7 linked regions of the Homo sapiens genome follow. The protein of the gene in region 2 purifies or fractionates together with the protein of the main gene of each other region. This does not show direct contact. Each region holds a gene or a part of one and is shown on either strand. Other genes may lie near its edges. The genes, in order: CPT1A, SLC39A3, TTC27, BTAF1, PLEKHG3, ECPAS and TOR1AIP2.

What was found.
Region 1: the proteins of SLC39A3 (region 2) and CPT1A purify together in Homo sapiens (affinity purification with mass spectrometry; one large-scale study listed by BioGRID and IntAct). This does not show direct contact.
Region 3: the proteins of SLC39A3 (region 2) and TTC27 purify together in Homo sapiens (affinity purification with mass spectrometry; one large-scale study listed by BioGRID and IntAct). This does not show direct contact.
Region 4: the proteins of SLC39A3 (region 2) and BTAF1 purify together in Homo sapiens (affinity purification with mass spectrometry; one large-scale study listed by BioGRID and IntAct). This does not show direct contact.
Region 5: the proteins of SLC39A3 (region 2) and PLEKHG3 purify together in Homo sapiens (affinity purification with mass spectrometry; one large-scale study listed by BioGRID and IntAct). This does not show direct contact.
Region 6: the proteins of SLC39A3 (region 2) and ECPAS purify together in Homo sapiens (affinity purification with mass spectrometry; one large-scale study listed by BioGRID and IntAct). This does not show direct contact.
Region 7: the proteins of SLC39A3 (region 2) and TOR1AIP2 purify together in Homo sapiens (affinity purification with mass spectrometry; one large-scale study listed by BioGRID and IntAct). This does not show direct contact.

The regions. Positions count from the first base shown.
Region 1 is NC_000011.10:68,834,918-68,839,107, reverse strand, and holds part of CPT1A (carnitine O-palmitoyltransferase 1, liver isoform), read left to right. Parts: intron 1-4,190. UniProt on the Homo sapiens protein: Catalyzes the transfer of the acyl group of long-chain fatty acid-CoA conjugates onto carnitine, an essential step for the mitochondrial uptake of long-chain fatty acids and their subsequent beta-oxidation in the mitochondrion.
Region 2 is NC_000019.10:2,734,510-2,737,696, forward strand, and holds part of SLC39A3 (zinc transporter ZIP3), read right to left. Parts: intron 2,871-3,187; 5' UTR 2,749-2,870; coding exon 2,539-2,748; coding exon of another isoform or gene 2,431-2,538; exon of another isoform or gene 17-2,430; intron 1-16. UniProt on the Homo sapiens protein: Transporter for the divalent cation Zn(2+). Mediates the influx of Zn(2+) into cells from extracellular space. Controls Zn(2+) accumulation into dentate gyrus granule cells in the hippocampus.
Region 3 is NC_000002.12:32,665,716-32,669,905, reverse strand, and holds part of TTC27 (tetratricopeptide repeat protein 27), read right to left. Parts: intron 3,272-4,190; coding exon 3,138-3,271; intron 1-3,137.
Region 4 is NC_000010.11:92,024,351-92,028,540, reverse strand, and holds part of BTAF1 (TATA-binding protein-associated factor 172), read right to left. Parts: intron 3,786-4,190; coding exon 3,574-3,785; intron 1,950-3,573; coding exon 1,790-1,949; intron 1,412-1,789; coding exon 1,241-1,411; intron 1-1,240. UniProt on the Homo sapiens protein: Regulates transcription in association with TATA binding protein (TBP). Removes TBP from the TATA box in an ATP-dependent manner.
Region 5 is NC_000014.9:64,734,907-64,739,096, forward strand, and holds part of PLEKHG3 (pleckstrin homology domain-containing family G member 3), read left to right. Parts: intron 1-1,946; coding exon 1,947-1,985; intron 1,986-2,449; coding exon 2,450-2,469; intron 2,470-3,835; coding exon 3,836-3,949; intron 3,950-4,190. UniProt on the Homo sapiens protein: Plays a role in controlling cell polarity and cell motility by selectively binding newly polymerized actin and activating RAC1 and CDC42 to enhance local actin polymerization.
Region 6 is NC_000009.12:111,414,450-111,418,639, forward strand, and holds part of ECPAS (proteasome adapter and scaffold protein ECM29), read right to left. Parts: intron 3,558-4,190; coding exon 3,434-3,557; intron 1,904-3,433; coding exon 1,823-1,903; intron 203-1,822; coding exon 1-202. UniProt on the Homo sapiens protein: Adapter/scaffolding protein that binds to the 26S proteasome, motor proteins and other compartment specific proteins. May couple the proteasome to different compartments including endosome, endoplasmic reticulum and centrosome.
Region 7 is NC_000001.11:179,842,757-179,846,946, forward strand, and holds part of TOR1AIP2 (torsin-1A-interacting protein 2), read right to left. Parts: intron 4,073-4,190; coding exon 3,315-4,072; 3' UTR 1-3,314. UniProt on the Homo sapiens protein: Required for endoplasmic reticulum integrity. Regulates the distribution of TOR1A between the endoplasmic reticulum and the nuclear envelope as well as induces TOR1A, TOR1B and TOR3A ATPase activity.

The sequences.
Region 1 (4,190 bases), on a different chromosome or scaffold from region 2:
GGTGGAAGCCTGAACTTGAATTCCGGAAGAATTGGTGCTTTAAGAATTAAAATGGCTGTTCGAGATTGTTTGTTTAAAGTGTGTTGGAGAGAATCTCTCGAGAATCTCTCCAACACACTTTAAAGAGGCCTCACTTGTCTTCTGCCAGTCTTGAGCTTTTCTTGTGAAGACTTTTGTTTTGTTTTGTTTTTACAAATAAGCGATATAAGCATACGATGCAAAGTTAAAGAGGCACAGATGGGCCCGGCCCCGTGGCTCACGCCTGTAATCTCAATGCTTTGGGAGGCCAAGGTGGGAGGATTGCTTTGAGGCCAGGAATTCGAGACCAACCTGGGCAACAGAGCCAGACCCCTGTCTCTACAAACAATTAGTAGGGCCTGGTGGAGTGCATCTGTGGTCCCAGCTACTCAGGAGGCTGAGGTGGGAGGATGGCTTCAGCCCAGGAGGTGGAGACTGCAGTGAGCTATGATTGCACCACTGCGCTCCAGCCTCGGTGACAGCCAGACCCTGTCTCTGTTTTTTTTTTTTTTTTTTTAAAAAGGTGCAGATACAGAGTAGAGTCCTTCTCACTTGGTTCCCCTCTCCAGATGCCACCACTATTACCAGTTTCTTTGACGACATGTACAGGATATGTTTTTTAAACAAATTGATTGCTTAACACAAGTAAGGACTTTTTTCTGCTTGCTAGCTTCAAATATTTGTTACCTTGTGTAAATTTCAACTTTTACCCCATCCAAATGTCAGGTGAAGGTTGGATCTCCAGCAGGCCCTGGGCTGAGGCCAGCTACCCTATTTGGGTATCTTGACGGCCTCAGAAGTGTCTGCCTTTGCCTTTTTTTTGGTGAGGATTGTTCTTCGGTCCAGGAACGTCTTTGGAAGTTAACAGTGAAAGAAATCATGCTGCTGAGTGAGGCGTGCCCTCTCCAGGGTGTGCAGGAGGGTCACCGTCACCTTGGAGGGTTGGGCAGTAGGGTGGGTACCGCTCTGCTTCCTGAGGGATATAGGTTAGGCATTGGACACCAAGTCCTTTATGTTAAGAAAGGAAGGCTTCATACTCCTGATGCGGGTGGTTTGTGGTACCCAGCCCAGGAGCCGGAGAGCCAGCCTGCATTCTTCCTGTTCCCTAAGCCCCCACATGCAGCCGGGGCTAAGTGCTGCTACTTCTTCCTAACTCACCCTTACATTCACCTTCCTCATTATTTCAGTGGCCCAGAGCAGACATTCAGATATGTGTTGAAGGAATGACAGAACATTTGAGACATCCTTTCTTTTTTTTTCTTTAGTGACAAGGTCTTGCTCTGTTGTCCAGGCTGGAGTGCCGTGGCGCAATCATAGTGCACTCTTGGCCTCAAGCGATCCTCCCACCTCAGCCTCCCAAAGCACTGGGATTACAGGCATAAGCCCCCTCGCCCTGCCCGAAGCACCCTTTTTCCACTCTGGATTGCCATAACCGCCTGACGAGGGGCACTGTTATTCCTGTTTGTGTTATGGGAAGTTCCTGTGAGGGAGGCAGGGAGCAGAGGAGCATTTGGGTCCCCCCTCAATGCACCTTCCTTCATGCTGCTACTGTGGCTGAGGACATCTGGACCCGAGACCACGTCCCTATTCTCTCCCCACAGCAAGCTGCTAGCTCTCTGCAGTGATGTCTGCTTCGCCCACCAGCCCTGGCTCACTCAGGGGGTCCTGTGGTCATCAGGTCACATTGAGTCACCACAGACAGCTTTCCTAACGCTGTGTTCTGATGCCCTGGAGAAACTGTCAGCTAAGCGCAGTGGCTCACGCCTGTAATCCCAGCACTTCTGGAGGCCACGATGGGCGGAACATGAGGTCAGGAGATCGAGACCAGCCTGGCCAACACAGTGAAACCTCGTCTTTACTAAAATACAAAAAGGTAGCTGGGCATGGTGATGCACGCCTGTAATCCCAGCTACTCGGGAGGCTGAGGCAGGGGAATCGCTTGAACCCAGGAGTTGGAGGTTGCAGTGAGCTGAGATCACACCACTGCACTCCAGCCTGGTTGACAGAGCAAGACTCCGTCTCAAAAAAGAAAAGAAAAGAGAAGAGAAGAGACAAAACTGTCATATGCTATCACTGAAATTTGACTTTTTATAAAATGATTCTTCATTTATAAAAGCATTTATCCCTGATTTGCCAACTGTCATCTCCTCTGGTGCCCTGAAAAAGATTTAATACATGGAGGTTTGCTTTCCTTTTTCTTTATTTCCTTCATTCCTTCCTTCCTTCCTTCCTTCCTTCCCTTTCTTTTCTTGGAGATTTTGTTTCATTTTTCTTTCTTTCTCTCTTTTCTTTTCTTATTTTCTTTTCTTTTCTTTCTTTTGAGGAAATCTCACTCTGTTGCCCAGGCTGGAGTGTAGCGGTATGATCTCGGCTCACTGCAGCCTCTGCCTTCTGGGTTCAAGTGATTCTCCTGCCTCAGCCTCCCAAGCAGCTGGGACTACAGGGGCATGCCACCATGCCTGCCTAATTTTTGTATTTTTAGTAGAGATGAGTTTCACCATGTTGGCCAGGCTGGTCTTGAATTCCTGACCTCAGGTGATCTGCCTGACTCACCCTCCCAAAGTGCGGGGATTACAGGCATGAGCCACTGCGCCAGGAGTTTTTTTTTCCGAGGCAGGATCTTGCCTTGGTGCCCAAGCTGGAGTGCAGTGCCGTGGTGCCATCATAGCTCAACGTAATCTCCCATTTGGGCTCAAGGGATCCTCCTTCTTCAGCCTCTTACATAGCTAGGACCACAGGCATATGCCACCACACCTAGCTAATTTTTTATATTTTTTTGTAGAGACAGGCCTCACTATGTTGCCCAGGCTGGTCTTGAACTCCTGGCCTTAAGTGACCCTTTCACCTTGGCCTTGCAAAGCGTTGGGATTCCAGGCATGAGCCACCACGCCGGGCTTCCTGGTTTCTTTATACTTCTTCAAATACACACAGTGGCTCAATGTGATGTCCAGTACAGTTTGCACAAAATACAACCACAGATTGCTAAAAGGTATACATCGAAGTCAGAAGGTATCAAATGCTGGCATTGAGATTTGGCATGGGGTGGGGGTGCAACAGGTAGGAAGAGAAATCCACATTCCTAGAGGGTTTGCATTGGCACCACAGGGCTACAGTTGGAAAGGGACAAAGAACGTGTTCCTGCAGTAAAGACCTAACAGGTGTCAGAGCTGGCTGCCACGTCCTCCTGCAGTTTGCCGGAGGAGGTAAGGGCATCCTGCATACTTTATGTGAGGCAAATACTTGCTCAAGGTCACAGGTCTGAGTAATTGGTAGAGCTGGGATTTGAACCCAGATCTGTGTGTTTTCTTTCCCTTTCCCAGGCTGCTTCCCAGACCACTGGGCAGCCAGAGGGCCTGGGTTTTGGAGGCCCCCACTCCCTACCCCATGCAGACTGGGTGTGGCACTGAATCCGCCTCTAGGGTTTCTGGGTTTCCATTTCCTCATCTGTAAGGTGGTGGGTCTGAACCTGTCATTCCATGTCACACGAGTTTTGTGAGGATCCAATCAGAGGTCAGATGTGAAGAGAGTTTTGAGTGTGTAAAGTAAATACAGGCTCTAGCAAACAATGTCCTGGCTGCAGGCGGCATTTAGGGACACCAATGTATTTTGCAGTCCCCACATTAGAAGTTCAGTTCAAGTTCAGTTTGAATTAGAAGTTCAAGTTGTTATATTCTGTGCAAAGGTGAAGAATATGCATGGGAGATACAGGGGACACCGCTCCTGTTGTCTTAGGGACATTTGTGGGAACAATATACTGGTACGAAGAGGAGGTTTAGGATGTCCTTTGGGCAGGTGCAGGTCTCCTCCTTGCAGTCTGAGCTCCTGCCCGAGTGCCGATGCTGGCTAGAGGCAGGGCAGGCACAGTGGGAAAGAAGTAGCAGCTGTTAAACTTCTGGTGGGCTTCTGAATAGCTAGGTCAGATAACTGGGTCTGTCAATACGTTGGCTATCTTCTTTATAAAATTGTGAATCTTTGTGGCTTTTCCAAATTTTTTTTCTAAGATCATATTTGTCTGTATTTATCTAACCATTACTTATTGACGTGGTGCACTATAAGGTCTAAATTTGAATTGGCTTAATTTTTTTTTTTTTGAGATGGAGTCTCGCCCTATCGCCCGGGCTGGAGTGCAGTGGCGCAATCATGGCTCACTGCAACCTCCGCCTCCCCAGTTC
Region 2 (3,187 bases):
TGTGGACACCTGGCAATGTCTGGAAACATTTTTTATTTTCACAACTCGGGTAGGGGGAAGGTGCTGACATTCGGGGCTGGATTGTTCTCTGGGACGGGGCCGTCCTGGGCACTGCAGGGTGCTGCTGAGCAGTGTCTCTGGCCTCCACCCACTCCAGGCCAGGAGCACCCCCCATCGTGACAACCACAATGTCCCCAGGCATCGCCCAGTGTTCCCTGGGGGCAGTTCACGCTGGGTGAGCCTCTGCTGCAGCAGAAGGCTGTGTTTCCACGGAGAAGCCACTTAACTCCCTCACTGACCACCGGCTGGAGGCCTCATGCATGCCTCGCTTGAGGACAAGCTCATGAGGAACTCTAGCTACTCCCAAGAGACAGACGTTGATCAGGAGAGATGAGGCAGATGCACGGGAGCTGTGAACCAGGCACCATTTTCCAGGGGTGACTGAGAGCCTGGCCCTGCAGTGGGTGAGGCTGGGGGCTCGGGAGTAGGGACCTCATCCGCCTGACCAGCCCGAGGACAGGAGAACGGCGGGAAAGGTTTGGGTGCCATGAGAAGGCCACTGTGATGAGGGGGAGGGAAGAGCAAGCTCCCCGCAGTCGCCCAGGCCTGCAGTCAGAGGGTGACGGGGGTGACACCATGACCATGGGGGAAAAGGGGGGCTGGCAGTGGCCTCTGCGATGCAGGAGATGTCAGAGATGACCAAGATCTCCATCCTCGCAGTGCAGATGTCAGTCTTCACACACCGCGTAACGAACGAATGCAGACTCAGCCACGCGGAACAGCAGGAATGCGGTGTCTCGGCTCTGAACGGTGGAAATCCAGGTGCGGGCTAGCTGGGCCCTACGCTCCAGGTCTCGCAGGGTGTCATCAGGGCTGAGATCTCACTGACACCCAGGGTCCTCTTCCAAGCTCACTGGAGGTCGGAAGAGTCCACCTCCTGGTGGCTGTGGACTGAGGCCCCGTGTCCTGGCTGGCTGTTGGCGGGGATGGCTCTTGGCACCGAGAGGCTGCCCTCGGGTCCTCGCTTCATGCCCTTCTCCTGGCACACCCTGGCTTTTTGCTTCTCCAAGGCCAGCAGGAGGGTGAGTGGCTCACCTGATTAGGCCAGGCCCACCCCCTCCCTTTTGATGAACTCAGCGCTAACCGATCTGGGGCGGTCATCACAGCTGCAACATCCCCTCTGCTGGGATTCTGACATAATGGCAGGAGTGACACGCACGGCAGTCCCAGCCCTACCCACACTCGAGGGGAGGGAAGAGCATGGGGCGTGCGGAGCAGGGGCTGGAAGCTCAGGGAGCCACCCTGGAACTCTACTCTGCCACACTAACAGGCTCAGATGATTTAATCCCAGACAACAGCCCTTCTCCTCCTTTCTGGACACTAGGCACGAGGAAAAGCAGGGCCAGGGGTTGGGGGATAAGCTTAGGGCTTCCATGCTTTCGTTGGGAGGAAGAACAGGGGGTCCTCATATCTCCACCAAGTATGTAACCAACACAAATTCAATGTCACATCTGGCACTGGCCCAGAGAGAGGAAGCCACTCACCCAGGGTCACCCAGCAAGCATGGCCAGGGCTGGTCACACTGTGGCCTGACAGGGGACCCACACTCTGGGCTGCTGATATGGGGGAGCTCAAGGAACAGGTCAGCAGAGGATGATGCTGTCAGGAGTTGGGGTGGACAGACTCCAAGATGGCCCCAGAAGCCCCTGCCTCTTGACAGCCATACCCTGTGAGGTCCTGGCCACTTGAGTATGGGAAGGACTTGAACTTGCTTCTAACCAGCAGGACACTGGGGCAGAGGGGAAGGGATACCCTGTCACCTCTGCATGACATGGGACTGTGCCCTCTGTCTTACACAGAGTCATGGCCATCTTCTCCATTTGCTGATGAAGGAACTGATCATGCTGGGGAGGTCCACGTGGCCAGGCTCTGAGGGCTGCCCCAGCCAACAGACACTGACAAACAGACACCTTCGGTCTGACAACCAATGAGGAACTGAACCTGGCTTACAACCACATGAGCTTAGAGGCCGACCCATCCCCGGTTGAACGTTGAGATGAGACCACAGCCCAGGAGACACTGTGACTGCTGCCTTGTGAGCTCCTGAAGCAGTGCCCAGACCCCTGACTCACAGAAACTGTGAGATGATAAACGTCTGTAGTCCTAAGGTGCTCAGTTTGCTATAATTTGTTACGCAACAGTAGCTGACTGATATAGGAACCGAAGAGAGGCCATGCTTTCCAGCTTCAGGACAGAGTGTGCCCTACCTAGGTGGGTAGTCTGGTCTGATTATCAGGTGACAACCGACAAGTCCACCTGTTGGGAATCCCAGGTCTGGTCCAAACCCCTTGTTTGGCCGGTAGAGCACAGAGACAGAAAGTAACCAGTTCACAATCACACAGCAAATTCACTTCCTACTTTCCGTCACCCTTACAGCATCAAGGCCTTCACTGAACTTGGCATCAGTGTTGAAAATGCATCAGAGTCCCTTGGCCATAAGGTGCCAAGGGCTGCTGCTAGTGCCCAGGGAGCCCTTACCTTTTCCCTCACAGCGGGCAGCAGAGCGTTGAAGCACGTGGCCAGAAACACCCCTCCTCCAAAGGTGTTGCAGAGAGAGAGGATCTTTTTCGAGCGATGGGCCTTCTCAAAATCTGTCTCGATGATCTTCACGGGGAGCAGGGAGCCGAGCAGCATGAAGAAGAACACGCCCACCATGCACAGGATTTTGGCCACTAGCAATTTCACCATGGTGGCGGCTTGGGCTGCTCTGGTCACTGCAGGGCCAAACCATCTGTGGGCGCACACCCAAGTCCCACGATGTGCTACCGAGCCCAACCACACAGTTGGAGGCTCATGTCTCAGTCCAGCAACTGTGAACATCAGGGGCACTGCATTAGCTTTCTTTCTTTTTTCTTTTTTTTTTTTTAGACAGAGTCTCGCTCTGTTGCCAGGCTGGAGTGCAATGGTGCAATCTCCGCTCACTGCAACCTCCGCTTCCTGGATTCAAGCAATTCTCCTGCCTAGTAGCTGGGATTACAGACACGCGCCACCACTCCCAGCTAATTTTTTTTGTATTTGTAGTAGAGACGAGGTTTCATCATGTTGGCCAGGCTGGTCTCGAACTCCTGACCTCGTGATCCGCCTGCCTCGGCCTCCCAAAGTGCTAGGATTATAGGCGTGAGCCACT
Region 3 (4,190 bases), on a different chromosome or scaffold from region 2:
TTTCTTTTTTTTTTTTTTTTTTGAGAAAGTCTCACTTAGTCACCTAGGCTGGAGTGCAGTAGCATGATCTCGGCTCACTGCAACCTCCACCTCCTGGGTTCAGGCGATTCTCCTGCCTCAGCCTCCCAAGTAGCTGGAATTACAGGCACACACCACCACGCCCGGATAATCTTTTCTATTTTTAGCAGAGATGGGGTTTCGGCATGTTGGCCAGGTTGGTCTCGAACTCCTGACCTCAAGTGATCCTCCCACCTCGGCCTCCCAAAGTGCTGGGACTACAGGCGTGAGCCACCACACCGGGCCATGTTGTAACATTTCCAATCAGGATATGTTTTGTAATCACTATAAATGGTATAGTAGTGTTCCTTTCCTTTTCCTGAAAAATGGTTATTAAACAGATGGTGTATATTACAATCTAATAATGTGTTTAACACAAGGTAATATGATATATAACCAACTTAACAATTCTCTTCCACCCATTAGAATAAAGCTATGTTTCTATCTAATCCATACCTACAGCATACAACTTGTACTCTCCATCTTCAAGTAGTAATTAACAAAGACCATAAGATTATCTGAATGTATTTTATTTCACATACAAAAGATTAAATTCTGGCCGGTGCAGTGGCTCATGCCTATAATCCCAACAGTTTTGGGAGGCTGAGGAAAGTGGATGGCTTGAGCCCAGAAGTTCGAGACCAGCCTGGGCAACACGGTGAAACCCCATCTCTACCAAAAATACAAAAATTAGCCAGTCTCATAACCTGGTCTCTAAATAGATAAACAGGTAAAATTTATTTTTTATTTATTGATTTATTTTTTTTTTTGAGATGGAGTCTCACTCTGTCGCCCAGCCTGGAGTGCAGTGGCACGATCTCAGCTCACTGCAAGCTCCGCCTCCCGGGTTCACGCCATTCTCCTGCCACAGACTCCGGAGTAGCTGGGACTACAGGCGCCTGCCACCACTCCCAGCTAATTCTTTGTATTTTTAGTAGAGACGGGGTTTCACTGTGTTAGCCAGGATGGTCTCCATCTCCTGACCTCATGATCCGTCCACCTCGGCCTCCCAAAGTGCTGGGATTACAGGCGTGAGCCACCACGCCCAGCCAAAATTTTTAAAATAAAATAATTCTGAAAAAATTTCTGATAGCCACATGTAATATATTAAAAATGTTAACCACATTAACCCTGTAACATGTATTACATGGTGAATCCCAGCACTTTGGGAGGTTGAGGCAAGAAGATTGCTTGAGCCCAGGAGTTTGAAACAAACCTGGGCAATATAGTGAGAACTCATCTCCATTTAAAAATGGAAGGAAGGAAGGAAGGAAGGAAGGAAGGAAGGGAGGGAGGGAGGGAGGGAGGGAGGAAGGGAAGAAAGAAGAAAAGGAGAAAAGAAAAGAAAGAACAAGCAAAAAAACGATTAAAATTCTGTATTAAATGGTACATCATTTTCATACATTTCTCATAATACTCATCATATCCTATTTATCACCAGGAGATAATTTTCTTTTCTTTTTTTTTTTTTTCAAAGGGAGTTTTGCTCTTGTTGCCCAGGCTGGAGTTCAATGATGCAATTGCACTCATTGCTCATTGTAGCCTCCACCTCCTGGGTTCAAGCAATTCTCCTGCCTCAACCTCCCAAGTAGCTGGGATTACAGGCACACACCACCACAACTGGCTAATTTTGTTTTTTTGTTTATTTTCTTTTTTTTGAGACGGAGTCTTGCTCTGTCACCCAGGCTGGAGTGCAGTGGCATGATCTCGGCTCACTGCAAGCTCCGTCTCCCAGATTCACGCCATTCTCCTGCCTCAGCCTCCTGAGTAGCTGGGACTACAGGCACCCGCCACCACGCCCGGTTAATTTTTTTTTTTTGTATTTTTAATAGAGACGGGGTTTCACCATGTTAGCCAGGATGGTCTCAATCTCCTGACCTCGTGCACCCACCTTGGCCTCCCAAAGTGCTGGGATTACAGGCGTGAGCCACTGCACCTGGCCTAATTTTGTATTTTTAATAGAGACAGGGTTTCACCATTTTGGTCAGACTGGGCTCGAACTCCTGACCTCAAGTGATCCACCCACTTCAGCCTCCCAAAGTGCTGGGATTACAGGCATGAGCCACCATGCCAGGTCAATCACTGGGAGATACTTTTCTATAGAACAACTCCACATTAAAAAACAACAAACACAGCCAGGTGTGGTGGCTCACGCCTGTAATCCCAGCACTTTGGGAGGCCGAGACGGGTGGATCACCTGAGGTTGCGAGTTCGAGACCAGCCTGACCAACATGGAGAAACCCTGTCTCTACCAAAAATACAAAATTAGCCGGGCGTGGTGGTGCATGCCTGTAATCCCAGCTACTCGGGAGGCTGAGGCAGGAGAATCGCTTAAACCCAGGAGGCGGAGGATGCATTGAGCCGAGATTACGCCACTACACTCCAGCCTGGGCAATAGAGTGAGACTCCATCTCAAAAAAAAAAAAAAAAAAAAGTAGTTGGGGGTTTCTGGGATCAGAAAACACATGCATAAATACTAAACGGCTTCATGGAAGCAGCTGGAGTGGACTATAATTAGGTAAACTGACCAAGAGTCATAATTCAAACTAAAGAAGAGAATTCACTAGACATGTCAAATAAACATACTAAGGCAACCACCCCCCCAATAATGACAGAGAAACAAAAGGCCGATCACAAAACTAGTGAAAAGGAATTCTGATAATGTTTATATATTTAGAAAAAGCCTAAGAGATTCCAAGAGAAGACAAACATAAGGAAACAAATATGATAGCAGATAGAGAAACTGGTCTACACCCAGTCTGCCTTTCGTATTTCTTCAAGAGGGGTAATACATAACTAACTGCATCATTAATTCATAGTTATTGAATCCTAGAAGAAAAACAGTATTTATCTCTATATACAGGTTAGGAAAAAAAAAACACCAGTTTTTTCTATCACAGGTTAGGAAAAAAAAACACCAGTTAAACACCAGTTCTCCCTGACTCAGCAACCTTTAAAAGGCAAAAGAAAGAATAAAATGAAGTCTGTCCCCAACCCATTCAGTGTTTCTATGGTACTCAGCTATTGAAATTCTTAGACTCAGGTGTTAATTGAATTTAATAACTTAATGTCCTACTTGCCTTGGTTAAATGTTCCTGAGGAGTGGGTGCTGGAGTGAATTCACAATTTGAAAGGACATCCCCTTCCCTTCTTACATCTAGAATCAGTTGTGCCACATAATTTTCCTGGAACCGTGTTCTTTTTCCCAAAGCACCTGAAAAAACAATAAAATTATATCTACTGACTTACCCATGAGATCTACTGTACAGTCATGAAGAGTAATATTTTCAGAGTGCTTTAGAGTTTACAAGGTATTTTCTCCATTTCACATAAGAAAGTCCTGAGGCCCAGCCTCAGGTTTTAAATGACTTATAAAATTAGAAAGCCAACAAGCTCTGGTACCAGGACTCAAACCCAGGATTTCTGCCACTACAGTCCACATACTAATTTTTGCATCAAACTACCACCCTTTAAAAAAAAAAAAAAAAAGTAACACATTGAGTGTTGTAGGTAGAAGAACTATTATTATCTCTTTTTCACAGATGACAGAAACAAAAGTTCTAAAGAATACAGTCATTTGTTCATGATCACAGGGCTTCTCAGCATCAGAACCAGAGCTTAAAGCCAGGATCTTTTGGTTCTATATCAACAGTTTATTACACTATCTGACTTCATGTAAGACCAAAATTTTTTCATTATGTCTCTGAAATAACTTACTGCAGAATAGCTGTTTTCAAACCACTTTAAGAAAAGCAAAAGTTCCAACATCCACTCTCTGGACAAGGTCAGATTACAAAGATCCTTGATTACAAAGACCAGTCTAGAAAGTCTGGATTTTATCCTGTTATGAGTCTGGCTCTAAGTCATACATTAACCTTTTAAATATGTTATGCTGAAGATAGCCACTGAAATTGTTTGATACAGCTTACTTTTTTATTTTATTTTATTTTATTTTTTATGAGATGGAGTCCTGCTCTGTTGCCAGGCTATAGTGCAGTGGTGCGATCTCAGCTCACTGCAACCTCCGACTCCCTGGTTCAAGCAAATCTCCTGCCTCAGCCTCCAGAGTAGCTGGGATTACAGGCATGCACCACCACACCCAGCTAATTTTTGTATTTTTAGTGAGGCGGGTT
Region 4 (4,190 bases), on a different chromosome or scaffold from region 2:
ATTTATATATGTGTATGTATATATGGATGTCAGAAATATAGTTAGATATCAGTTTTTTCTCTGAACAATTTGAAAGAAAGTTGTAGACATCATGTCCTTTTATCCTTTGAGAGGAATCAGCATGTATTCCTAAGAACAAGAATATTCTCTTACATAACCATATAAAGATCAGATTAAGGAAATCTAACACTGATATTAAAATGTTCTAATATACAGTCTGTTTTCAAATTCTGCCAATTGTCTAAATAGTGCCTTTTATGGCAATAGGCCATTTCCCTAAAATATCCCTCTGAGCCCAGTTCTGGTCACTGAAAGTCACCCATAAGAATATTCCTTCAAACAGAATAAAAGCTATTTGAAGACGGCTATGCATGTTTCTTTGAGCCTTCTTTTTTCTATGTTAAACATGTCTCATTCTTTCAACTTTATCTTGACTTTCAATATGACATGATTGAAGAACCTGCCTCCATTCTGGCCACCAGGGACTTAATTTGTTACCATTTAAAATGTAGCTCCCCAAACTAGACATATTTCAAATGTGGTTTAACATACACATAGTATGGCAGAACGATTTTCTCTTACTTGAAAGTACACTTCTGTTATTACAGCTAGTTTTAATCATCATATACCCCACCATAATTTATACTAAGTATGCAGTGGATTTTCTGAACCTATGTAGGACTTTAAATCCAACTATATTGGTTTTACAATATTAGACTCACTAATATTTCCAAGTGGTGCATCCTTTTGATTATAGATTGTTATCTGATGTATTAGTTCCATCATCTGCAATAACAATGGCTACTATTTATTGAGAATCTACACTAGATATCCTTTCTGACTGCTTACATATATAATCTTACATCACAACCATGTAGTAAAATAGGTATAGAAGCTCAGAGAGATAATCTGCCTAAGGTAACCAGTTAACAGGAGGCAGGGCCAAGAACTCTCACCCATGAGTCTTACTGACTCCAGTGATAAGCTGTGCTTTAGCAGAAAAGGACTAAGGAAAGAAACCTTGTGGCAAGACACTGAAGACATCAATGAAAAAAAAAAATCAAAACTTCACACATCCCCTAGTATGCTGCAGAATTTATCTAGGCACCAAAAATTCCCTCCAGTGGTGATCTCATGGATACTAAAGTAAACGCATTTTGCTGCTCCTTTAATACTTTCAACTTAGCAGTCACAGGAAGCCTGTGACTCAAAGATACAACAAATTGTGTAAGTTCTTTACCTTATCAAGAGTAAACAGATCAAGAAGCTGATCAGTCCCCATGCTCTGCAAACTAGAATTCTCTTGGCTAATAACAGTATTCGCTATGTTCATCTTGAATTTCTGCAACCCCATTATTTTTTCTTCCAATGTTCCTCTGGTTATCAATCGGTATACGTTAACCACACGTTTCTGGATAAGAAAAACAGTTAAGCAACCGTAACACATATTATGCTTTGAGGTTCCAACGAGTCAGAGGGCTTGTAGACTTGTACTATTTTATACTACCTAATTAGGGTTGGATTTTTATTTTGTCTGGCCACATGAGCTCAAAATGTGTGCAGCAATCACAGAATATTAGGGATGAACAGTGATCCAGGTTTTCCTAAGTGCTAGCACCTCATTTAATGCATGAGGAAGTGATACCACAGAAGAGTTAAGTGATCTGTCCAAGGTCATAACACATGTATGTTAACACCAGAGCAAGAACTAAACCAAGGTTTCCTATCTTTCTGGGGGAGTATATTTTCATGCACAGGTTAACATCTGTGAGGTAAAATTGACTTTTACCTGCCCAATGCGATGGGCCCGGTCCATGGCTTGTAGATCTCGCATAGGATTCCAGTCATGCTCCACAAATACTACTGTGTCAGCGCCTGTCAAATTAAGTCCCAGGCCACCAACGTGAGTGGTAAGTAACAGAACGTCTATAGATGGATCATTATTAAACCTAAAAGTAGATAACAAAAATAAAATTAGTCCATTCTTAAGTCCTATAACAGAAACTGTTAATAAAAATTAAAGAGCACAAATGAAAATGCTGCTTTAAAAATCCACAATAGGGATACTTACATGATCATCTGAGAAAAATATCCTCTCAATATGTATAACGTTTTTAGTAAAAGAGGGCATTCCAAAGCTATTCAGGAATTTCATAAATACAAAATAAGGCAAACTGCATTGAATTTAGTAACATCAGGTAAGGACTAACTTGCAAAAATATAATTAAATGCTAATTATAATTAAGATAAACCCAACTATGAACCTTTAAAGTATGGGGACAGAGAAGTGTGAGAACAGGCTAGACTTTCATTCAGGGACGACAGAAGGTGAGAGTGTTAGGGTTGCTACTACTGTACTAGTCCTAGAAGACACTGACAAAGGATATCTAGTAACTTCTAGGAAAAAGAAAAAACTAACATTAAAAATAGCAGCTACCAAGCTACGATTTATTATCCTTACTACAAGTCAAGCAATAGTCTTTGTACTTTATATGCATTATTTTATTTAATTGTTACAATAGCTCTATAAGGGTATTATTACCAATATCCCTATTTTAGAGAGACTGAGGCTGTGTGAATGATAAACAGGCTCAAGAGAACACTGCTTAAATAGCAGAGCCAGGAGTCAAACCTGAGCCTGTCGGCTTCCAAAGTCCCTCCCCGGGTCTCTAACTTTATTGTGCCTAATGATCTCTTAGGGATGCTTGTTTTTTTTTTTTTTTTTTTTTTGAGACAGAGTCTTGCTCTGTTGCTCAGGCTGAAGTGCAGTGGCCCAATCCAATCTCTGCTCACTGCAACTCTGCCTCTCGGGTTCAAGTCATTTTCCTGCCTCAGCCTCCAGAGTAGCTGGGATTACAGGCATGTGCCACCACATCCAGCTAATTTTTATATTTTTAGTAGAGACAGGGTTTCACCATGTTGGCCAGGCTGGTCTTGAACTCCTGACCTCAAGTAATCCACCCACCTTGGCCTCCCAAAGTGCTGGGATTACAGGCATGAGTCACCGCGCTCAGCTGGGATGCTTGTTAAAAATGGCTACTCTTGAAGTCAGCAGCTTTGGGACTAAGCAGAACCTAGGAATCTGCATTTTTTTTTTAAAAAAAAAAGCAACCACTGAGATTTTAAAAGTAGAGGCTGCAGACCACATGTGAACACTGCACTCACCAGTTCTGCTTCCTAGCTGGGCCAGATTCCAACTTGTTCTCAGTGCACAAACAGGGATTAGGATGGAGATTTTAGCTAAGCCACTTGTTTGGTTCCTCTCACCCTAATTCTCCCAAAAAGGTAAGGGGGAAAGTAGTTATCCTTACTGTTGGTTGATGCCTTAAATTTCTTTCATGCTCTTCAGAGTGCTTTTCTATTACAGTCACACCCTTTTCATATGCTAAGCAAATAATCTATTCGATTATATTTATGTAGTTCTATAGTTAAAAAGGGGTTTATTTGGGGTGAATTACACAATTAAAAAAATGCATTTGCAGATATTTAGCCAATGAAAATATTTCATGGGGCAAACTTCTATGTAAGTAATAATATATTTATTTATGAATAAGAGTCTTAGAAGCCACTTACCGGGAAACAATGGAATGCCTCTGACCAGGAGGTATGCTGCCATCTAATCTCAAATAAGTGACAGAGGGCAAGTGAGGTTTGAGGAGATCATGCTCTACTATATCAAGCATGCTTTTCAGCTGACAGAATATCAGTATCCTGTGCTGGGCCACAACAGACTCTGTGCCACTCTCGGAAGTGCTGCCATTTCCCAAACCGCAGTCCAACAGCAACTTAGGAAGAAAAAAAAAAAAAACTACATAAGCGTTCAATAAAAGCAGAAAACTAATCTCACTGTGACATTCCTCTCTGTGGCAAGAAAAGGTTAAATGTACCTGAAATCTGGAAAGCAGATTAGCACTTTGGGCTGCAATCTGTCACCCTGCAGCACACTGAACTAGTTTTTGAGGTGCTCAGGCTTAGAGCTCCCTGATCACCTCTTCAGAAGTTTTCATTTAATTTTTTTTATAGACTCAAGATCTCACTATGTTGCTCAGGCTGGTCTTGAACTCCTGAGCTCAAGTGACCCTCCTGCCTCGGCCTCCCAAAGTGCAAGGATTATAGGCATGAGCCACCACACCCGGCCCAGAAGTTTATCTAATAACAAACCTACCTTCCTTTTCCTCAATCCTTGAGAC
Region 5 (4,190 bases), on a different chromosome or scaffold from region 2:
GTAGAAACAGGGTTTCACCATGTTGGTCAGGCTGGTCTCGAACTCCTGACCTCAGGTGATCCACCCGCCTCGGCCTCACAGAGTGCTGGGATTACAGGCATGAGCCATCCCGCCTAGCTGAAATAGACATCTTTCTAAAGCATGTTTTGTACTCTTGAGCCTTTTAAAACAGAAGGTGCTGGCCACCGTTGAACCTTTCCTTTTCTGGAGTTAATGCTACAGCATCACTTAGGGTGTGTGAACTGCCAGATGCTTGAGGGGCCCCAGAGGCTGTGGGTTGCCATAGAGACAGCCTGTGTTTGGTGTGTCGTGCCCCTCTTCACGGTTCTTCTGTAACACTGAAGTATTTGTTTTCATTGGTCTAAGTATGCTTGTCTGTAGTAGCCCTTCTTCCCCTCCTGTCTGTTAGAAAGCGATCGTTCAGGCCAGGTGTGGTGGCTCACTCCTGTAATCCTAGCACCTTGGGAGGCTGAGGTGGGAGGATCACTTGAGTCCAGGAGTTCAAGACCAGCCTGGACAACACAGTGAGGCCTCATCTCTACAAAATTAAAAAGTTAGCTAGGCATGGTGGTGTGCACCTATAGTCCTAGCTACTCTGGAGGCTGAGGTGGGAGGATCACTTGAGCCTGGAAGGCAGAGGTTGCAGTGAATGGATATCGTGCCCCTGCACCCACCCAGCCTGGCTGACAGATGAGACCTTGTTGCAAAAAAACAAAACAAAACAAAACAAAAAAAGAAATCAATCTGTTGAACTTGTGGGAACTGTAGACCACAAAAAGATCAGGAAAGTCACTAGGGAGGGACTTGGGCCACATGCAGGCACTTTACTGCCTGGGCTCAGCCATCTACTCTGACTTCCTTGAGGTTTTTTCTGCTTCTGCTTCCCACTCAGAGAGCTGAGATGAGCTGACAAGTGTATTCTATTGATAATTAAGTTCTATTGTTTAATTTAAATTATGTCTCACTTATTAAATATTCTTGATAAGTTTTAAAATGAAAGAATAGAACATTTTCTACTTTTCACTTTAAAAACAATTAGGCATTTACTTACATTGATACAGATAGTGTATGTATGTTGTGTGTGTCAGCAGAAAAGAGGTTCTTCAACAGGCCTGCCTGCTGAGGAACAGCAAGATACCTTGGTAGACTTTCCTTCTGACTCCAGGTGTGTAGCAAATCATGGCGATCCCTGGGCCTCCCACTTACCGCCAGCTGGGCAAGGATATGGATAGGCGAAGGCCGAGGCTCTGTAGAACTGGACCTTGAGACAAGGTCCTCTTATTCCTGCCCTCCAGTCTCAGGTGTATCCTCAAAAAGGCTGGGGTACACGGTGATGACACCATTGGCCTAATGGATGTGTTTTGTATCCTGTCCCCAGAGCCTGGTCACTCTCCGTACAGCCGGGCAACTCTCCCCAGCGGTCAGCGAGGCTTCGTGATGCCCAGCCTTAAGGGCCGTAGAAAGTCGGGTGCGACCTCTGCTTTCCAGCTGGGATGCTGTGAGGGGCTTGGCAGTGGGTGTAGCTGATGCGCTGATATGCTCATTGCCAGGGAGGCAAGGGGCTTGAGGTGGAGCCAGGGACCTCCGGAGATGTTGCTAGTTGGTCTGAAGGGGGTAGCATGGAACTGAGTCCCCTCCCTATGGCTCCTGCGCGAGGGCCCTGGGCCAGGTGCCCTAATGCATTGCATCATGGGTGGTACTGCTCCGGCAGGGCTGGTAGTCACAGCGGGGGTCCTGGAGATGGATGGGCCCGCCTCCCTGTCCGTAGGTGCAAGGGGGCTCGCCGACACTGTGGAAGGCAGCTTCCCTGGGGCCTATGACTGCAGGGGGCCAAGCCAGAGTGGACTTTGAGCTGGTGATGGGCTGGTGGCGCTGTGAGCTTGGGACCCAGCCAGGCACAGCAGTTTCCTGGCCCGCGCTGACTCTGCTCATGCTTTCCTCCTCAGAGCCAACCAAACACCTGCTCAGGCAACTCAACGAGAAAGGTGAGTGTGTGAGGTGGCCAGCCATTCCCAGTGAGCGGGGGAGGAGGAGGGAGGAGGGGAAGCAGCCGACAACCTGGGGTGTGACCTGAGGGTGGAGGATTGTCAGAATAGTGTAGAGGGAACTCTGCCTCCATTCCCCCCAGAAGAGGGCCTCGCCCCTGGCTGGCTGAGGAGAGGGGCTGGAGCTCTCCCCCATGCACAGGCCTCATGCCCTTTCCTCCGGAAACAATGAGAGCCGAGCAACAGGCACAGACCTGCGCTGCTCTGTGGCCCCTGGGCCCCTGCTCTGTCAGTCATTCTTTTGAAAGCCCAGGAGACTAGGTGAGGGTTCTGGGAGCAGGAGCCCCCAGTGAGGACTTCCCCAGGGAGCTGTCCAGAGGTCTTTTTCCTGCTTACTGATCTCTTCCCCTCCCCTCCCCTGCCCCTCGCCCGTGTGCTGGGGGACCCGGTGGTGATGTCTGCAGCCCGAGCAGCAGGAATGAAGGTAAAGGCCAGTGGGAGGAGGGGACTGGCTGACAGAGGAGGGTGGGACTGCCCAGGTCAGCCCCCGGCCCCTTCAGCCCTCATTGTCTTCATTCATTCAACAAATGCCTACTAAGCACCCACTGTGTACCAGGCTGTGTGGCTTAGGGCCACAGAGATGAATAAGACATGGGCCTTGCCCTGGGGGCCCTTCTGCACCCTCTGCCTAGAACAGCACCCTGCTGGGGGCCTGCCCAGTGTGGACCTACTCAGATTTCCCTCTCCCTAGGGTAGACAAGTAGGCAGGCCTGTTTGGGTTCTGAAGTTTTGACCAGGTCCCAGCCTTTCCACCATGAGAATGCCCACCCCTCCCTGGACCCCAGTGGCAACCTGAGTTGGGCATCTAGGTGTGGCTTTCTGTGTGAAGGCTCCCCCCCCGCAGCTGCCTGCAGGAGGACGGGAGGTTGCCCAAGAGGCTGGTCACGAGGGGGTCTTGTGCTCTGAACAGCATGCAGGCAGTGCTGGAACCCTCCTGGACTTTGGGCAGCCCTCCCGTACTCGGGGCCTGCAGCCAGAGGCTGAAGGGGCTACCCAGGAGGAGGAAGAGGAAGAGGAGGAGGTGGTGGAGGAGGAGGAGGAGGAGGAGGAGGAAGAGCAGGCCTTTCAGGTCTCTCTGGAGGACCTGACAGGGCATGAAGGCAACGAGAAGGGGGCTGGGCCGGAGCCCCCAGGCTCAGAGGAGGAGGAGGAGGAGCAGGAGGAGAGCCTGGCGGTGGCGGAGCAGGTAGCCGACTTTGCCAGCTCCCTGCTGGCCGCCCTCCACTGCTGGCACTATCGGGCCAACGCTTTACTTTTCTCCCGGGGCGCTATGGTGAGGTGTCTCTTCGATCTCCCCTCCTCCTTGCATGCTCCCTGGGATGTGCATGCCCACCCGAGGGCCCCCTCTGCTGCCCTCCTCACCCCACCCTGCCCTGGTTTTACTCCTCCCCTCAGCACTTAACACCATCGCTCGCTGTCACACCCTGGTGAGCCCCTGGCATGCTCTGTTCCAGTACTGGGCACTAATCAATATAACGCCCAACAAGCATGACAAGTGGGGTGGGGTGGTGGGGGCAGGGAGAAGCTAGCACACAGTGGGGCTGGAAAGGTCAAGTCCACTTTGGAGGGACAGAAAGGTGGGCTGAGGTTTTTTGAAGCTGCATGCCTGACAAGGCTTTCCGCAGCCCCAGGCCTGGCAGTTCAGGTTGGCTCTGGAATGGCTCAGGTCCAAGACTGGCTCTCAGCTCAGCCCAGCCCCTTGGGGCGTGGGAGGCACTGCCCGTGTTGGGATGCAGAAGGGATCAGCTTCCAGTTGTCTTGGAGTTGATGACTGACCTCTACCTCTGCAGGGAAAGGGGCGCAGGGAGTCTGAAAGCTCCAGGAGCAGCAGAAGGCCCAGTGGCCGGTCTCCAACCAGTACTGAGAAGCGCATGAGCTTCGAGTCCATTTCTTCCCTGCCAGAGGTGAGCGACCAGCAGGTGGGATGGGGATAGTAGGAAGAACTTGGAGTCCAGATTTTCAAGTCTGCAAATAGGGCTTTCAGGCACAGGCTCTCCCACTGGGCCCATGGGAACAGAGATTCCCCACCTCCCAGGACTCTCAGCCCTGCATGAAGCCTGTTTGGCCTAGAGTATATGGTTTGGTGAGCAGACCACCCCTTTCTATGAAGTAGAGAAAGGCTCCCCTTTGGGCAGATGCAGTCCC
Region 6 (4,190 bases), on a different chromosome or scaffold from region 2:
GCTGAAGCAGGCCAATGTAGATCTGGACAGGGTTAGTCTCCCCACTCTTGTTAGATGATGAGGGTGCCATCTGCCCGCTTGACATTAAAGTCCGTATGTAGCGCCCAATGGCTGGGGCATGATCCTGCATATCAGCCAAACTCTGAGAGGTGGGCACCACCCCCGCACTGTGCGCAAGGCACATGCGCAAGTACAGAACGATCTACAAACAGAACGGAGAGGAAGACTGCATAAGCTTCTCGAAAAGTCAGTGTGGGAAGGTACTCTTCAAAGTAACAATTTCTAGTTTTGATTCACCCACACTTCTTTATAAAGCTATTCCAATCCTCATGGAAGGCAGAAAATATGCCATAATGGAGCAAAATTTGTATAATAAGGTTTGCAAATCCAAAGAATTTTTTAAGATTGTTAAAATACAAACTGAACTTTTAAAGTCAGAAATTGGAGCTGGAGGCTGTTATCCTTAGCAAACTAACGCAGGAACAGAAAATCAAATACCACATGTTCTCACTTATAAGTGGGAGTTAGATGATAAGAACTTCTGAACGCAAAGAAGCAAACAACAGACACTGGGGTATACTTGAGGAGAGAGGGTGGGAGGAGGGAGAGGAGCAGAAAAGATAACTATGGGGTATTGGGCTTAATATCTGGGTAATGAAATAGTATATACAACAAACCCCCATGACACATATTTACCTATATAACAAACCTTCACATGTACCCTCGAACCTAAAATAAAAGTTAAAAATTATAATAAAAATCATTATTTTTTAAAAGCCGTGTGTGTGTGTGTGTGTGTGTGTGAGAGAGAGAGAAAGACAGAGAGAGAGGAAAGAAATCTGAAGTAAATGGCCTATTACTCCTGCAGAATTCCAGTTGTGTTTACTCCATTGACACAAGAATCTGAGAAAATGGGTTCAATTCATCTACAGAAAAATAGATATAACACCATAAAAACCTCTGATATAGACCAGACACAGTGGCTCACGCCTGTAATCCCAACACTTTGGGAGGCTGAGGCAGGAGGACTGCTTTAGCTCAGGAGTTCAAGACCAGCCTGGGAAACATGGTGAAACCCATCTCTACCAAAAAGATAACAGAATTAGCCAGGGGTGGTGGTGCACGCCTGTAGTCATGGCTACTCAGGAGACTGGGACGGAGGTTCACTTGAGCCCAGGAGGCAAGGTTGCAATGAACCGAGATCACGCCATTCACTGTACTCCAGCACGGGCAACAGAGTGAGACTCCTTCTCAAAAAAAAAAAAAACCAAACAAACAAAAAAAACAACCCTTACATAAACAGGCTGCCAAGGAGTCCATCCTCTGGAAGCTTTTTCATTGATCGTTAAAATAGGATAGGCAGCAAATTCACTGTGAATATTCTTAATCCGAACAAGATCACCTCTTGTAATTTACCTAGAGCAAGTCAATAATCTAAAAAACAGAATTTCCCTTAATAAGTGTGATCAATTTAATCCTCTCCAACCTTCAAAACTAAATAACCCTAACAACCTCAACAACAGGTTGGCTTTAAAACCCAAATCTAACTTGCTGCAAAATCCCAATAGTAATCACTACAGAACATCCAGTTTTTTCACAAAAAGAATCTCACTGAGATAAATATATTTACATACTTCACTATGAATTAAAATAATACCAATTTCCCAATACTTTTTTTTTAAATAAACAACCCGATGAAGAACAATGACACCACAATATGGGTTTACCTAAAACACAACAAAATGACAGACCCCTCTTTGGGTGTGGTGTGATCTTTTTAGAACACTTACAAAAAGTAAATAGAAATATATGAAAGTTCTACCTCTCCAAAGGCTGCTGGGTTAAATGGAAGGACAGTGGTCCCGGTCATGTACTTGACTGGAGTTTTCATTCGATGAGAAGCCTAAGTTTAAAAAGTCCAAAACAGACACAATTACTGAAAAATGAAGCATACCTGCCCTTCCTCAACTCAAAAACAACTGTGTTTCTAGCTACATGTCCTAAGTTTGCTTCTTTTTCTGATCAAACATTTTCCACTTTCCTATTAACCATGCTGATCGTGCATGTCCCTCACACACTAAAAGACAAGTGTATTGCCCTTTTTCCATGTTTGTTCTGGTTTGTTTAAAAATAATAAACCTATTCCAGACATCTACTAATATGGTCATCTCAGGTCACTGCATGCCAGTTATTTTCATTAATAATCAAAGTAGGAGGAAACTACAAGCAGAGAATCTTCTGACCACAAATAGACTGTGCTGCTATGTGGAAAACAGAATCATGGCCGCTGCATACTGACCTTCAACTCCCTTAAGGTGCCTACCTAGCAAAGAGCTAGGATCACCAGTGGAGGTAAAAGGTAGGAAGGTGTCCTCCGGCAAAGTGGGACAGAGTCAAGGCCTGGAGGGGGTGGATGGTCATTACTGCCAATATCCTGGATCTACTAGCAGAAAACACTGTGCAAAAGCAAAAACTTACAAAAGCAGATGGGATGCTCTCTTATGAACACGGTGGGAAGAACATGAACTGTTCCCTGAAGCATCCTTAAACTTACACTACCCTAAAGCGTGCCCTTAAAAATAAAAAGGAGAACCAGCGTGGGCAATATAGCAAAACTCTGTCTCTACAAAAAATAAAAAAATTAGCCAGGCACGGTGGTGCACGCCTGTAGTCCCAGCTATCGGGAGGCTGAGGAGGGTGGATCACTTGAGTCTGGGACGTGGAGGTTTTAGTGAACTGAGACCACACCACTGCACTCTAGCCTGGGTGACCAGAGCAAGACCCTGTCTCAAAAAAAAATAAAAAAATTTTAAAAAAAGGAGATGTATTTTTAAGCATGTCATATTAAGGGAAAAAATATTTAACACAGCCAAAATGTTGCCAAGCATGAAAGGAATTATAAGTAATTCAAGTTTAGGCAAAACAGATCAATTACAGGTGAGGATTACAATTTTTTTTCCTCACTTTGTATCTTCTTCTTATTGTAAGTATTAATGCTAGAAACTTTATGAGTCAGCTGGGCATGGTGGTTCATGCCTGTAAACCTAGCACTTTGGGAGGCCAAGGCAGGTGGATCACCTGAGGTCAGGAGTTCAAGACCAGCCTGGCCAACATGGTGAAACACTGTTTCTACTAAAAATACAAAAAATTAACCGGGCTTGGTGGCAGGCGCCTATAATCCCAGCTATTCAGGAGCTGGGGCAGGAGAATCACTTGAACCCAGGTAGTGGAGTTTGCAGTGAGCCAAGACCGTGCCATTGCACTCCAGCCTGGGCAACAAGAGCGAAGCTCCATCTCAAAAAAAAAAAAGAAAAGAAAAGAAAAAGAAATTTTATGAGTCAACATCTAGTGATTACATTTTTCACTTTAAAGATGTTTTTATTTTCATCATCCATTATGATTTAGACTAATTACCTTAAGTTGCATGCCATACCTTTTCTTGGATGTAATAAACCATTTCTGGGAAGGAAGGCATCTGCTCAGAAGTACTTTCTTTTCTGTTTCTACCTGGAAGACACCTTAATACGCGTTGTGCTTCTCCATGAACTTCTTCACGTCTTTCAGAAAAAGACAAATAAGAATAAAAAATAAATGTCACCAATGGGAAATGATCATTTGAAGAATAAGAACAGCAATTTTATTTGGCAGCTAGAGTTCTCAGAAAATGTCTTAAATACATTCTTGGCTATCTAAGCAGAGTCAACATAACACATTATAAGAAATCACTTCTTTTCAGAAATTGCATGAGGTCCGGGGACTCATCTGGCTTACATCTTTGAATTTGACTCACATTAAAAAACAAGATAGGGTACTTTAAGTAAATTATTATGTAAATATCTATGTGTATGCTTTACCTCGTAGAGTTAAACCATAAACAACTATAATACATATTTTAGAAGTCAGTGACTATCCAGTGGTCTACACACTCCACCCAAAGTCTTACATCTCTATGTATTCAGCTACAATTCTGTACAACTAATAACTCATAAGTGACATTAAAGTGTAAAAATATAAACCCAACCAATTTCAGACCACCTAGAGACTGATCTCAGCAATAGTCTTATCCAGATACCACATAAAGGCCTTTTAATTCTTCAATTGCCTCTGATTGTGTCTCATTTTCCAAACAACACATAAAGGGCCGAAAAGAAAGAATTAATAAATAATTCCTTAAGTTGTCAGAGGATTTT
Region 7 (4,190 bases), on a different chromosome or scaffold from region 2:
TCAATAGGCCGGGTGCGGTGGCTCACGCCTGTAATCCCAGCACTTTGGGAGGCCAAAGCGGGCGGATCACGAGGTCAGGAGATCGAGACCATCCTGGCTAACACGGTGAAACCCTGTCTCTACTAAAAATATTTTTTTAAAAATTAGCCAGGTGTCGGGGCGGGCACCTGTAGTCCCAGCTACTTGGAAGGCCGAGGCAGGAGAATGGCATGAACCCAGGAGGCGGAGCTTGCAGTGAGCCAAGATTGCACCACTGCACTCCAGCCTGGGCAACAGAGCAAGACTCCATCTCAAAAAAAAAAAAAAAAAAAAAAGTATAGAACAAATAGAAATTAACCTAATACATTAGATAATAGATTTGAATTATCTGTACATTTATAAAATATGGTCTTATGTTTAAAAATAGTCATTTTAGTCATGAGAAGACCCAGAGCTAATATACTGCTTCTTTTAAAAATGATTTTTGAGGCCAGGTGCAGTGGCTCGTGCCTATAATCCTAGCACTTTGAAAGACCAAGGCAGGCGGATCAATTGAGGCCAGGAGTTCGAGACCAACCTGGACAACATAGCAAAACCTCGTCTCTATTAAAAATACAATAATTAGCTGGGCATTGTGGTGCATGCCTGTAATCCCAGCTACTTGGGAGGCTGAGGCACAAGAATCACTTGAACCCAGGAGGTGTAGGTTACAGTGAGATGAGATTGTGCCACTGCACTGCATTCCAGCCTGGGTGACAGAGCAAGACCTTCTCTCAAAAAAAAAAAAAAAAAAAAAAGAAGTTTGGTTGGGTGCATTGGGTCACATCTGTAATCCAAACACTTTGGGACGCTGAGGTGGGAGGATCACTTGAGGCCAGGAGTTCAAGACCAGCCTAGGCAACACAGTAAGACCCTGTCTCTATACAAAATAGTGTGGTAGAGTGGTGTGGTAGTCTGCACTTGTAGTCCCGGCTACTCAGGAGGCTAAGGTGGGAGGATTGCTTGAGCCCAGGAGTTTAAAGCTACAGTGAGCTATGATCAAGCCACAGCACTGCAGCCTGGGAGTCAGAGTGAGACTCCATCTCAAAAAAAAAAAAAAAAAAAAAAGACTTTTGAAATAGCAGACAGAAAACTGACAACACCCTCAATTGATTGCACTATACATGGAAGGGAAAATGTTTTTAAAAAGGCTAAATTAAAAATTATGACTTTAGAAATTTATTTTTCTAAATTATTTTGAAGAGAAATGATGAAAAACCATATTCAACTGAATGAAGAAACAAGAATATGCGACATACTGGTTCCTTGACAGATCTGAGGTAGCACAGGTCAGCAGGCCAATATAATAGTTATACAAGGCAACACTGGTTTTGTGGATGTAACGCTAGCATCTAAGATCTAAAAAGACAGAAAAAATGTGCATATGGGATACAGATTTTCCTTCAACTTCCTCTGCTTTTATACTGGATTGACAGTGATATCACATTCACCATGCTTTAACTTTTTGTTCAGGTCTCTTCCCAAATCTCTTGGAAGCTTCCTTCGAAGTCCCAAATGCAAATTCTTCCTTCAGGTATGCCCCTACACTCAATTGAGCAATTACTCAATTGTAATCTTTTTAGGTATCAGTAAAGATCCCTGTATCTTCTTAGTGTTTCCTAAAATCTTTCCATACTTTAATCAGACTTCTTAGCTATATACATATGATCTCATATAATGGAGAGGCCAAAACCCAGTTGAAATAATCCAGGATTATGGTAATAGTCTATATAATGGAACAGACCCTTTGTTAGGTCGAGATCATTTTACTAGAGTTCTGCTTTCAGAGCTCAAATGCTAATCAACTCTATCTCCATACAAACTGTTTTCAATCTTTCTTACAATCACAGAACATGGTCCGTCAGTACTGAACATCAAAACCTCTGAGAATCTACCCACCATTTCTGCTTCCTCTCACTAAGTATAACATCTCTTAGATTTCTCTAATTTTTAACCTAATGGTACTTCTATAACTAGTTGGTCAAGAAATGAGCTGCATTACATAATGTTCCATCACTGCATAGAAATAAACTGGTAAAGTTATGCCAAATGTTCATATAAAATTTACTATTAAATTGGTTATTCAAAAATAAATTTTTAAAATAAAACAAATAAATTGGTTATTAAAATCTGTTCTGCTGAAAGAGTCTACAAACTCTTACCCTAGACAAGTATAAAATTCCATGCAGAGGGGACAGAAATGACGATTAACAGAAATGAACAAAAGCATCAGAGACATGCTAGTAAATGCTAGCTTATACATTCTGCTGTTCATGTATAGATCTTTATCCTTCATAAATAATGTATCTATACAATAAACCTGTATTTCATCTTCCTACTCATAAGATTTAATACATTCATTTTTTAAACATATTTCCTATCTTCTAAGATGTTTTTTCACTTAATCAATGGTTTTCAAACTCGAATATCAGTGAAACTCTTTGTTCCAATGAAATCTCATAGAGAACCCCAACATATAAAACAGTTAAAAGCAGAACTGCTCTGATACAAAGGGGAAGGGTGCCAGTAGACACAGTTTGAAAATCAATGCTGTAAATTGTTCAAGAAAAGCTGAAGTAAAGATATAGCCAATTGGAATTTCTTCATTTCCAATGATTATAAACAATTTCCCCACTGGTTCTCATTTTTAAGAACATTTGAGTACAGCTGCTTATACCTCAGCTGAATGAAATAAAAGCACAGTGCCTTACATGTAGTATTTAGGTAGGTACTTAATGGTTTGAATTCTTATTTCTTTTATCATACTACTCAAAACTGCAAAATTAATATAAGATATAATCCCGTAACTTTAGATTATTAAAGTAAGGTTTGAAAATATTCAACATGTGATAGAAAAATTTTCTAAAGGTTATCATTGCTTCATAATTCTAATTGCTTTAGTCCAAGTCCAAACATTATCGAAAAGGTTCTTCAGAGTCTCACTCAAGAAAAAAAAAAAATCACTCTGTAGTTACTCTAAGAAGTAAGAGTATCTTCCTGTGCAATGTTGCTATATTTTAGAATTTAAAAAAAATTCTCATATATATCATCGATATTTCAAACCTGATTTGGTCCAAAGAAAAAAAGTCAGGTTAATTTTTAGCTTTGTCAAGGCTTAGATTAGAAAGATTTTACAAGGAATAAAAAATAAAAACTTGTTTCTAAAATAAGCTCATCTTTGTTTTTCAGGCTATTTCCTCAAGCTATTTTATCAACCTCCTTCCATATAAATGGAAGGTCTTTAAACAAACTTTTTCATAAACATATACCTTCTGTAACCAACTCTGTGCTTAGCTTTAGAAAAGGCACCCCTGTTCTTCTATGCTACTCACTGGCTGGACTGGCAGTACCAGGTGTGAAATTCGGCTCCACAGCCCACTCAATTTGTCTGAGTCCATGTGGTTGAAGGAGGTGGGAGTGTCAGAGTTGGTAAACTTGGCCCAGAGTAAGTCTCTCACTTTTTCTTCCGTTTCCCTTGGGCCTACACTTGCTTCTAATGTTTCCTCCTCTAGCAGAACAGTCAGGACCAGGGCCACATCTTTAAAGGCAGCATTCTCATGATCACAATACTTATAGAAGATCAAAGTGGAGCCGGCAGGGAAGGATTCGAAGTGGTGTACCACAGCAGCCTTCTGGCCATTCTCAAACCCATAGCTCAGCTCCAGGTCAACCAACAGCTTGACCGTGTCACTGTCCTGCCAGGTCCTTCCAGCCCCATCAATCTGAATGGGAGAGACTTTCTGGGAAGAGGTGTAGGCATCTGCAACATGGTGGCTCAGGCACTTCAGGGTCTCTCTTCCCTCCCGAGCTGCTGTAAATATGATGGTGGCTGGCTCAGTGGGGTTGGAAGCATTGAGGTGCTTCTGGAGAAACTTCCGTCCTCTCTGCCACAGGAAGGAACTCTGGCCTGGAAATTTATCTTCCAATTGGCTAAACTGGGCCAAAAAGGCCTCCAAAGCTGGATTTTTGGGCACTTGCTGGGCTGGAGAGGAATAGTAGCTATTCACAGAACTTGCCACAACAGCCACAACCAGGACGACAAGAATCACAGGGCCTGTCAAAAGAATGAAAAAGGAATAGAAAATTACAGAGAACACGAGCCAGAAACAAAGCCTGTGGTAAACTGAAATGAGGCAGAGATACCAGCAGGTTTTACTAGGAGCAATAAGTTT